Regions from separate parts of the Homo sapiens genome. Here region 1 is linked to region 2. The links come from fine-mapping of genetic effects on gene expression. Tissue or cell type: monocytes. Region 2 holds a variant in brackets; the other region holds the start of a gene. All regions are shown on one strand. Distances are between the middles of the regions.

Evidence for each region. PIP is the estimated chance that this variant, and not a neighbour inherited with it, causes the effect.
Region 1: IRS1 starts here. The variant in region 2 is fine-mapped to the expression of IRS1 in monocytes (Quach 2016, PIP 0.95).

What each region holds. Positions count from the first base shown.
Region 1 is chr2:226,797,007-226,802,598 of GRCh38, reverse strand. IRS1 (insulin receptor substrate 1) reads left to right here and starts at 2,779. Exons shown (of 2, transcript NM_005544.3): 1 at 2,779-5,592. The coding sequence starts at 3,861. It also overlaps a transcript of RHBDD1 not described here. RefSeq lists silencers at 1,241-1,450, 2,411-2,480, 2,501-2,920, 3,911-3,960 and an enhancer at 4,691-5,592.
Region 2 is chr2:226,271,553-226,277,996 of GRCh38, reverse strand. No RefSeq gene overlaps it. Among named protein-coding and RNA genes, the nearest start is that of MIR5702, 380 kb to the left of the region's middle. The variant TTA/A (reference allele first, on the strand shown) is at 2,421.

The DNA of each region.
Region 1 (5,592 bases), 530 kb before region 2:
CCAAAAGACTAATTTAGCTTAGGTGACAGAATAATACCCATACCTGCTCAGCATTACTTCAGTGAGTTCCCACAAACGCGTCTCTTTCTATTCTATATATTACATGAACCAAATGTAAATGAATTTCCAGTTAGCCCATTAATAAAACAATTGTAGAGAACAATTGAATTTACTGTAGTATAATTATAACAAATATTAACCACCTTTAAATTGGTAGTAAAACATCAGCAAGTAGAAAAAATGGCACTAATATCCTATGATCAGTGATTATCTTCCATAGGAAACCCATTGGTCTGAACATAATTTGTCACAGCAGTGAGGCTTATTTCATAATTTTTATCGAATATTTAGCAACTGAAATTGTGTTTTTTAAAGCAGAAATGCTTTAACACTGAGAGATATATTTTTTAAAAGGTTTATTATCATAATTAGCTTTTTATGATCAAAATCCTTCCTATGAAGATAATTGTGAGGTACGTGCAAATAAATTTTCCAACCCTCCCCTCCTTCCAGAAAAGAGTATTTTTCCCCCATAGAGGTACAGTACCTTTATTTAGCTTTTTTTGGGGGGTGGGGGGTGGAGGGACGGAGGTAGGGACAGGGCCATTTGAAAAGTAAATGTCCATGGATTTGATTTGTTGTCTTACAAAATGTTAATTACTCCACTACCCCCATCCCAGCGCTAAACATCAAACCTGTGAAAAGCCCTTTGGCCTTATCTGGATTACATTGTTACTAGTAAACAACCCTTTTATAATCTCTCTTTTTTCTTGTCTAGGGTAAAACCAGGCACACAGTTACACTTTTCCACCAACTTCAGGCTTCTTTATTCTGCACCTCCCTGCCCTACCCCCTGTAAGGCACTCTATACCCCCAGAATTTCGGTCACTGTGAGTGCCGCCTCGCTTCCATTTCCAAATATCTGCTATTAATAGCCTTGCTGTAGTGGGCACGTGTGCCCACATCACCAAGCTGTCAGAGGAAAAGAAGGGAGGGCTTTCAATTCAACATGTGTACTCAAATTATAGATTAACCAGGTTTAGATGAGGCTGCATGACGACCGGGAACAGGAAGGGGAGAGGAGAAACGAGAGGCTCCCAGGCTTGGGTGGGGAGGAGCCCCTCTGCAGATGCCCAATCCCCCTAATTTACGTATCGCACACCCCTGAATGGCGCCTATGGTTCTTTTTCTCCTTCATCATCATCATCTTCTTTTTCTTTTTTTACTACGCTTTGCAACCTACCTTGGTACCCTCAACCCTTCTACCCCCACCTTCCCTCTGCAGTGCAAGGCTTGAAAAACAGGCCATCCCACCAATCAGCAGGCCTCCCCGGGAAACTCGCTCCGCCCCTCAGCCGCATTGGGCCGAGGCGCGCTCCCCCGCGGCCCGCCGGGTCCCAGCCACTGAGCATGCCCAGCGCCTCGACTGCTGAGTGCCCAGCCAGCATCCTGCAGTGCCTGGGAGCCTGAGGCCGAGGAGGGTCCCGGCGTAGTAAAGGGGCGGCAACCCCAAACGGGCCAGGCATCAAAATGAGACAGCATTAAACCGAGTGACATCTCTGTGGGTCCTTAGTGCCAGGCGAGCAAGCAGGGACAAACTGCTTGTTTATAGGTCGGCTTAAAAAATAAAAAAACTCTGGGGAGCGTTTGTTTGTGGGGAGACTGATACCGCAAGGTGACCCTGAAAGGGGCGCTTCAAGTAGACCCAGGCTGCTGATCTGGTCCACTCATGAAGTAACCATTTTCCTGTACAGTTGAGCTGGCACCATCCTTGTTTTCTCCCTGTTATCCTTGTGGTCAAGGTTAAAAACTTATAGGGTGGTTCAATGGGTGTGGGAGCTGTGTGTGAAACAAACATTTCAGCCAATATTTGCACAGTAGGGTTTTGGCCTTATGAACCCTCTGAAGGTCCCTAACAGCTTTTTAAAGTCACGGATAGACTTCGGAATATGATAAGGGACCTCTCATTTCCCCTCCCCCATGCCCTCAGCCTTAGGTGTGAGTCCCCCCGTCACACGGATGGGCAAGGGGAGCAGGAGAAAAGGTGATATTTACATTTTCTCCCTACTTGATCAGCAACTAATTCCACAGCGCCGGACGTGAGACACTTCCTGGGGATCCCTGTTCTCCTTTTGTAGTGACCATAACTGCCCCCAGTCACTGCCCTTGGGCGTCCCTCTGTTCCTTCCAGGTACCTCACGGCAGCAAATCTGGGGATCCCAAGGTGGAAGGCTGGCCCAGAAGTCCTTTAGAAAAACCTTAAAAAATACAGATCCCCTCACCATGGCCTATCGCCCTGAAGCCGAAATCTAGCTTTTAAATTTCCTGGGGGAAACAGCCTTGACTAGAAACCTCCCTCCCGTGGGTCAGTCTTACCTGATAGGTAAGAGGCAGCCCAGCTCCGGCGCCCCCGCCTCCCCCCGGCCTCCCACTCGGGGCTCTGTAGCCGCAGTGCCCCCCCGTGGCCCCCCACCCTCACTCCTGCGTCTTCCCGAGCTCGCCCCCTCCCGTTTTCCCAGACTCCCCTCGTGCTTTCGGGTAGCCACCCAAACACCCCCGCCTGCGCCCGCCGCGGGGATTCCTGCGGGCCGGGGGCGCCCCGGTTGGCGCGCGTGTAGGGAGGCGCTGCGCCGGAGCTGGCGGCCGCGCAGGGGCGCTGTCCTAGCGCTGCGCCGGGGTCGGCGCGGGCGCCGCTGCAGCACGGCTGGGGGGCGGAGAGGGGCGGGCGCGGGGCGGGCTCGGCCCGGAATGTAGAGACCCGGGCGGGAGCCTCCCGGCGGCGGCTGCCCGGCTGCCGAGCGCGGAGGCTCCGTCACGTGTTTTTCTCCTCCGAGTGAGACGGCGGCGCGGTCGGAGGGGGCCGGCGCGCAGAGCCAGACGCCGCCGCTTGTTTTGGTTGGGGCTCTCGGCAACTCTCCGAGGAGGAGGAGGAGGAGGGAGGAGGGGAGAAGTAACTGCAGCGGCAGCGCCTCCCGAGGAACAGGCGTCTTCCCCGAACCCTTCCCAAACCTCCCCCATCCCCTCTCGCCCTTGTCCCCTCCCCTCCTCCCCAGCCGCCTGGAGCGAGGGGCAGGGATGAGTCTGTCCCTCCGGCCGGTCCCCAGCTGCAGTGGCTGCCCGGTATCGTTTCGCATGGAAAAGCCACTTTCTCCACCCGCCGAGATGGGCCCGGATGGGGGCTGCAGAGGACGCGCCCGCGGGCGGCGGCAGCAGCAGCAGCAGCAGCAGCAGCAACAGCAACAGCCGCAGCGCCGCGGTCTCTGCGACTGAGCTGGTATTTGGGCGGCTGGTGGCGGCTGGGACGGTTGGGGGGTGGGAGGAGGCGAAGGAGGAGGGAGAACCCCGTGCAACGTTGGGACTTGGCAACCCGCCTCCCCCTGCCCAAGGATATTTAATTTGCCTCGGGAATCGCTGCTTCCAGAGGGGAACTCAGGAGGGAAGGCGCGCGCGCGCGCGCGCTCCTGGAGGGGCACCGCAGGGACCCCCGACTGTCGCCTCCCTGTGCCGGACTCCAGCCGGGGCGACGAGAGATGCATCTTCGCTCCTTCCTGGTGGCGGCGGCGGCTGAGAGGAGACTTGGCTCTCGGAGGATCGGGGCTGCCCTCACCCCGGACGCACTGCCTCCCCGCCGGGCGTGAAGCGCCCGAAAACTCCGGTCGGGCTCTCTCCTGGGCTCAGCAGCTGCGTCCTCCTTCAGCTGCCCCTCCCCGGCGCGGGGGGCGGCGTGGATTTCAGAGTCGGGGTTTCTGCTGCCTCCAGCCCTGTTTGCATGTGCCGGGCCGCGGCGAGGAGCCTCCGCCCCCCACCCGGTTGTTTTTCGGAGCCTCCCTCTGCTCAGCGTTGGTGGTGGCGGTGGCAGCATGGCGAGCCCTCCGGAGAGCGATGGCTTCTCGGACGTGCGCAAGGTGGGCTACCTGCGCAAACCCAAGAGCATGCACAAACGCTTCTTCGTACTGCGCGCGGCCAGCGAGGCTGGGGGCCCGGCGCGCCTCGAGTACTACGAGAACGAGAAGAAGTGGCGGCACAAGTCGAGCGCCCCCAAACGCTCGATCCCCCTTGAGAGCTGCTTCAACATCAACAAGCGGGCTGACTCCAAGAACAAGCACCTGGTGGCTCTCTACACCCGGGACGAGCACTTTGCCATCGCGGCGGACAGCGAGGCCGAGCAAGACAGCTGGTACCAGGCTCTCCTACAGCTGCACAACCGTGCTAAGGGCCACCACGACGGAGCTGCGGCCCTCGGGGCGGGAGGTGGTGGGGGCAGCTGCAGCGGCAGCTCCGGCCTTGGTGAGGCTGGGGAGGACTTGAGCTACGGTGACGTGCCCCCAGGACCCGCATTCAAAGAGGTCTGGCAAGTGATCCTGAAGCCCAAGGGCCTGGGTCAGACAAAGAACCTGATTGGTATCTACCGCCTTTGCCTGACCAGCAAGACCATCAGCTTCGTGAAGCTGAACTCGGAGGCAGCGGCCGTGGTGCTGCAGCTGATGAACATCAGGCGCTGTGGCCACTCGGAAAACTTCTTCTTCATCGAGGTGGGCCGTTCTGCCGTGACGGGGCCCGGGGAGTTCTGGATGCAGGTGGATGACTCTGTGGTGGCCCAGAACATGCACGAGACCATCCTGGAGGCCATGCGGGCCATGAGTGATGAGTTCCGCCCTCGCAGCAAGAGCCAGTCCTCGTCCAACTGCTCTAACCCCATCAGCGTCCCCCTGCGCCGGCACCATCTCAACAATCCCCCGCCCAGCCAGGTGGGGCTGACCCGCCGATCACGCACTGAGAGCATCACCGCCACCTCCCCGGCCAGCATGGTGGGCGGGAAGCCAGGCTCCTTCCGTGTCCGCGCCTCCAGTGACGGCGAAGGCACCATGTCCCGCCCAGCCTCGGTGGACGGCAGCCCTGTGAGTCCCAGCACCAACAGAACCCACGCCCACCGGCATCGGGGCAGCGCCCGGCTGCACCCCCCGCTCAACCACAGCCGCTCCATCCCCATGCCGGCTTCCCGCTGCTCGCCTTCGGCCACCAGCCCGGTCAGTCTGTCGTCCAGTAGCACCAGTGGCCATGGCTCCACCTCGGATTGTCTCTTCCCACGGCGATCTAGTGCTTCGGTGTCTGGTTCCCCCAGCGATGGCGGTTTCATCTCCTCGGATGAGTATGGCTCCAGTCCCTGCGATTTCCGGAGTTCCTTCCGCAGTGTCACTCCGGATTCCCTGGGCCACACCCCACCAGCCCGCGGTGAGGAGGAGCTAAGCAACTATATCTGCATGGGTGGCAAGGGGCCCTCCACCCTGACCGCCCCCAACGGTCACTACATTTTGTCTCGGGGTGGCAATGGCCACCGCTGCACCCCAGGAACAGGCTTGGGCACGAGTCCAGCCTTGGCTGGGGATGAAGCAGCCAGTGCTGCAGATCTGGATAATCGGTTCCGAAAGAGAACTCACTCGGCAGGCACATCCCCTACCATTACCCACCAGAAGACCCCGTCCCAGTCCTCAGTGGCTTCCATTGAGGAGTACACAGAGATGATGCCTGCCTACCCACCAGGAGGTGGCAGTGGAGGCCGACTGCCGGGACACAGGCACTCCGCCTTCGTGC
Region 2 (6,444 bases):
TAAGATAGAGAACATTTCTGCCACACAAAGATACTTCATGTTGCACTTTGATAACCACTCTGTCTTCCCTCCTCTCTACACCCCTTACCCATAGCAACCACTGGCCTGTTCTCTATTTCTATAATTTTTGTCATTTTAAGAATCTTATATAAAAGGAATGATACATAATATAACTTAGAATTCACTTTTTGCATTCAGCGTAACTCTCAGGAGGTTCATTCAGGTTGTTTGTGTATCAATTTTCATTATTTTTTGTTTATGAGTAGTATTCCATGACAGAGATGTACCAGAGCTGGTTTAATCATTCACCCATTGAAAAACAATTGAGTTGTTTCCAGTTTGGGGCTATTACAAATAAAATCTCTATAAACATTTGCATACAGGATTTGTGTGAACATAAATCTGCATTTCTCTGGGATAAATGCCTAAAAGTGCTATTGCTAGATCATAAAATAGTTGCACGATAGATTTTTTTAAAAACTGCTAAACTATTTCCCAGAGTGGCTGTCCCATTTCACATTCTTGCCAGCAATGTATGAATAATGTAGTTTGCCCACATCGTTCAGAGCATTTGGTGTTGTCAACATATTTTACTTTAGCCTTCCTGATAGGTTTGTAGTGATATCTCATTGCAGTTTTAATTTGCATTTCCCTAATGGATAATGATATTGACTGTCTTTTCAAATGTTTATTTGCAATCTATATATTCTCTTCAGTGAAATATTTCTTCATATCTTTGACCATTTTCTAATTGAATTGTTTGGTTTCTTTTGCTCTTGAGTTTTGAGAGTTCTTTTTATTTCCTGGATATTATGGTCATCTCCATATGCAATTTGGAAATATTTTCTCCCACTCTGTAGCATGTCTTTTGATTCTCTTAAAGAGCAAATCTAAGAACAGAAGGGAACTTCCTTAGCTTTAGAAAGAAAATCTACAAAAACTTTTTAGCTAGCATTCTGCAGTGAAACCACCTGTGCCTGTAGATTTCTGTTTTAGGAGTTCTTAAATTACAAATTCAATTTCTTTAAGCTATAGGGCTATTTAAATTATCTGTTTTATAATGGGTGAGTTTTGGTTGTTTTTGGTTTTTGAGAAAGTGATCCATTTCCTCCAAAATTTCAAATTTATGTGGCTAGAGTTGTTTGTGGGATTCCTCCAGTGTCCTTTTGAAATCTGCAGGGTTGTGGTTATATCTTCTCTTTCTCTTCTGATATTGATAGCATGTGTGTTCTCTCTCTCTTTTTTCCTTTGTCAGTCTTGCTAGAGGTTTGGTAATTTTATCGATCTTTTCAGCTCTTTGTTTCATTGATTTTCTCTATGGTTTTTCTCTTTTCAGTTTCATTGATTTATAGTCTTTACTATTTTCTCCTTTCTGTTTAGTTTTATTTTTTCCCTGCTCTTCTTTGTTTTTGGTTTTTGAAGAGGGAGCTTACTGACTGATTTCAAACTTTTCCTCTTTTCTAATGTGTGCATTTAGTGCTACAGATTCCCTCTCAACACCACATTAGCCGTGTCCCACCAATTTTCATATGTTGTATTTAGTTCAATGTATTCTTTAAATTTCCTTTGAGACTTCCTCTTTGACAATGGATTATTTAAAAGCATAAGGGCTGGGGGACCAGGGGTAGAATGCTATAGACTGAGTGTTTGTGTTTCCTTAAAATTCATGTGTTGAAATGTAATTTCCCATGTGATAGTATTAGGAGGTGGTCTTCTGGGAGGTCACGAGGACAGAGCCTTCGTGAATGGGATTAGTGCCCTTATAAAAGAGATCCCAGAGACCGCCCGTGCTCCTTCTGCCATGTGAGGACGTAGTAAAAACATGCTGTCTGTGAACCAGAAAGCTAGTCCTCACCAGATACTGAATATTCCAGTGACTGTTGTACTTCCAGCATCCAGGACTGTGAGAAAATAAGTTTCTCACCATGTCTATGGTGTTTTGTTCAATAGCCTAAACAGACCAAAACATACAGCTTTTATATATTAGTTGCTCTAAGAATTACTTTATATATGTGTGTGTATATACACATGTATGTGTGTATGAAGATTATGTATATATAAAGTTATATATATATATGTGTTATTAGTGTCATATTACCAGTTCAAATAAGATATAGAACTCTTATCCTTTTATCTTCCTCTATTTATAATATAATTTTCATAAATATTTCTTTCACATACATTTAGAACCACATCAGGCAGTGTCATAATTTTTGCATCAACCATTAAACTTAATTTGGGAAACTCAAGAAATAGATATTTTAAGAATAGCATGCATGTATTTGTGTGAATACACACACACACACACACACACACACACACACAAATCCATATTAAAAATAAGAGGGGTTCATTGCTATTCACACTGTTGATAGACATTAATCAAATATGTTTTATTTGCAATCAGATTATTTATAGAC[TTA/A]TTTCTTTCAATCTTCTAAAAGACAATCTGAGGAAGTGGCAATAAATCAATAGAAGAATTGCAAAATCCTCCTAGAGCATTTAAACCTTCTCCTCTAAGCAGTGATTTATCACCATGAGAACTTGATGGCATTGCTTGTATTTCATATTATTAGTTGTTTTATGCATGTTTGCTCTTAGGCTTGGTTGTGCAGTCTCTAATAATGACTCCCTTGGAGAAGAAGCCTTCTCCCTTGGAGAAGAGAACATCACATAGAAACACGAAAACAAAACAATGGGGAAGTCTTTATACTGCATCTCATGAAGCAATGTTGCATATGCCTTTGCCATTACACAAAAATACCTCAGTTGACCACTTCTACTTTGTCCAAATGAAAAAAACAATGAGCTCAGTACAGACAAGGGGTTCTCAACAGCATCACTATTGGCATCTGAGACAGAACATTCTTTTCTTGTGGGGGCTGTCCTGTGCCTTGTAGGATAAGTGACATTCTTGACCTCTACAAATAGATGCCAATGGTACCTCTACCTCACCTCATCTCAGTGGCAACAAGCAAACATTTCTCCAGACGTTCCTAAGCCTCTCCTGGCGGGTGGGGGGGCTGTGGCCCCTGATTGAGAGCTGTTGATGTAAAGATGGGAGCTCTGACACTTGCCCTCTCTTGTCTCTGCTCTGTGCTTGTAGGCTTACTTCTTCCATTTCAGTGATAAACCCTTATTCATGACCAGCAAGCTGTCCATCTTTCTCCCCTCTGTTTACTTATAAACAGAGAATTCATTACTTAATTAATTTTATTCCTGCATTAATGTGTACAATTCCCACTACTGGGGAATGTGCTTGGTTCCAGTGGACAGATCTGATCATTCCTTGAAGAGGCCATCTTCATCAACAAAGCACCCTGCTTAGCCAGCCACAGCTACCAGATCAGAGCACAGGCAGGGTGCCTTGATGTCTCGGAAAACTTGGCATCATCCTGAAATGGGGTTTTGAGACAGCTGGGTTTTAAATTTTAATGTATTTATATGACATCTCAGAAATGAAGCAACGGACACAAAGAGATTGGAGGTGTAGTTTCCCAGTTCATCATTTTTAGCTACATATTTCTCAAAAACTGTTTCTTTGGACAGTAGTTTCAAATTATTCTCATAGGAGTAAAGCAAAAAAGGCTTTCATAGTCAGGTGAATTTGGGAACATATGAAGTTAAGCAAGACTCTTACTCAGAGCTTACTCAGAGCTTTTTATGTCCTATTAAAAAGGATAAGGCTAAGGCGGGAGAATCACTTGAAACCAGGAGGCGGTGGTTTCAGTGAGCCGAGATCGCGCCACTGCACTCCGGCCTGGGCGACAAAGGAAAACTCTGTCTCAAAAAAAAAAAAAAAAAAAAAAGATAAACAATAAGATAAAATGATACACAATATAAAAAGGATACATAATAGGACCTAACATTTTAAACTTTTTTATATCCTAGATATAGTTAATCATAGGGCCTTTTGTCTTCACAGAATATGTCGTCTGATCACTGATCCCCATATTACACTCTGGGAAATCTTGCAAACCTTAATTCAAAAAGTTGTACTTTAGGAAGCTTTGACCTAATTTTTTATTTTGGGAGAGAGGAAAAGACAGACACATAAACAGAGAAGTAATTATTTGTCTCACATCATTTATAGAATAAATTATTTTGATCTTACAATTTCAGTAGGTCATCCCTCATGAAAGGTAAGCACATTTCCCAAAGTTCATTGGACTGAGAATAGGACTGAATTATATCTTCTCCAGATGAACTATGGAATGGTGGGTAGAAGCTCATCAACTCCATCTTTAATGTGTTAACTAATTATGTAGCCTTAAGGAAAAAGTTTCCTGTCTCAGAATCTATTAATGTCTCCATCTATTAATAGATCACTTGGTCTCTAGTTGGCCCTCCATCTCTGAGTCACTATGACATCTTTAGCTTGTCAATTCATAAGTAAAACAGATAATGCTTGACCAGGCCTCTGAAGGACTTGTGGTGGGAAGATTTTTGTCTAAAGGCAATTTAAATGTTTAATGTCAATTTGTGCTACATTCTGTAACAAATATCCTTCTGGGATTTCAGGTTTCCCTTTTGGATGTTAGATTATTAACACTGGATGTTAGAAATATTTCATGTTTCTATAGTTCTGATACCAGCCTCAGAGTTTACAGTGGAGACAAGATATTTAGTGATTTTCTGCAATGTACTAATGAGGCTATTATAAATTACCATGTTCTTCCATTTGAAAAAGAAAGGGCAGTTACCTAATCTAAGCCTTTATAACCTACTCAACAGAGTAGAAAAATATCTACAAAAATTGCAAATTTAAAGTCGACAGGAAGCACATACATAAAAGAAGATGTCTGAAGAGCTGCTTTTATAATTCAAGCCATACTGTACAACTTAACCTTAGTATATGATATTATTTTTTCATCTAGAAATGTGGGCAGATCTACTAAAAGTTATTTGAGTTGTATAAATTTTAAAAATCATTTTACTGAAGTAAATTCAAGGTAGACATATATGTGTATCTTATCTTGTTCATTTATCTAAGCGTTCTCACAAATACTTTTAGAATCCATTTTGTTCTAGAAAAAAATGGAGAAGATATTCTTTTGTTTTTATCTCTCTCTTCCACTTTCATAGAATTTGCAATTCTCCTTAAAACATTGGGATGACCATTAAACAAAGGCAGCTCTGTCACTGTATTTTCCAACATTTCACATTTGAATTCCTGTAGATTCTACTTGCAAAGGTTACATTTCAACTCTGTCATGTTCAAGCTCAATTTATTAACTAGCAAATTATTTTCTGTTAGCCAAGCTCCTGGTTGCCAATTCCTTTATCCTTTATTTCATTATTTCCATCCATTTTTTTATTGTTGTTGTTCATCTGCTTACTGTGAAAAAATATTCTCCAGTCAGCAGATTTTCTCAGAATCTGTGAAAAGAGCATTGATCTGTTTGCTGGCCATCACAAGGGTAGGGCTGTGTAAGGAGGGGAGTCTGTCAGAGTAGAAAGTCGTCTTGTGACTAGATTTGAAAGATCTAAAATCAGGATGCTGAAATGTATGCAATGGCAATATCTGGCTTTCAGTGCAGGTAGAAAAATGAAATGAAAGCCTTTCCATTCAATCCTCAGAAAATATAATTGACTGCAGATGTGCCTATAATTGCAGTGCTGTGCAGCACAGCACAATAGAAAACTTTATTGCTTTGTGTCCCTCTAACACCCATTTGCATCTGTTTGTTGGTTGAATGTATTGGCTGTAATCAACACGTACAGATCTTGGCTGGCTCTTGCTTTGCTAAAGGTCTTTCATGGCAGAGTGCTTTGTTATTTATCTAGATATGTTTCTGTTTTCCTAAAAGAATACACTTTGATAGAAAAGAAGCAAAAAAGAAATGTGCCATTCAGAGATATACTAGGTAAGTTCTGTGCCAAAATGTTAGAAGAGTGACAGGATGTATTGCATCTGAGATAATGGAATCATGTGCTTGGAGGTGTGAACAGGTGACTGAGAATGGGATGCATTCATCATGAAGACCAATGTGCATTGGCTGTCTATGATGGTATTTTTCAAATATACATAACCTATTATATATATACTTATGTAACAGGGTAATAAGCACTTCCTTAAGTTAAAAACAAATCAGAAGACTAAGCAAGTTGATACGATAGAAATTGGGGAAGTCTCTATAATCCTCCTGAACTTCAGTAATATAAAAATGTCATCTACAAAAGAGACACTCATTTTCTGGCTATTTGTTGTTCACATTTCATTCTCTCTTCCAGCTGTTCCTGAAGGTTAGTTGATCTCAGCTTGTTTCCCTCTCCCTTTCAGCGAATAGAGGCGGCAAGGCCAATTGTTAAATTCAGATCAGTTGCATACAGATTGGGCACTCATATTCGATTTGGGGTACTCTGATCTAGTCCTAAGTCACTCAGAGAGACTATTGTTTCTCCAAAAAGCAACTACTGTTTTCTCAAACTCAATACCTTACA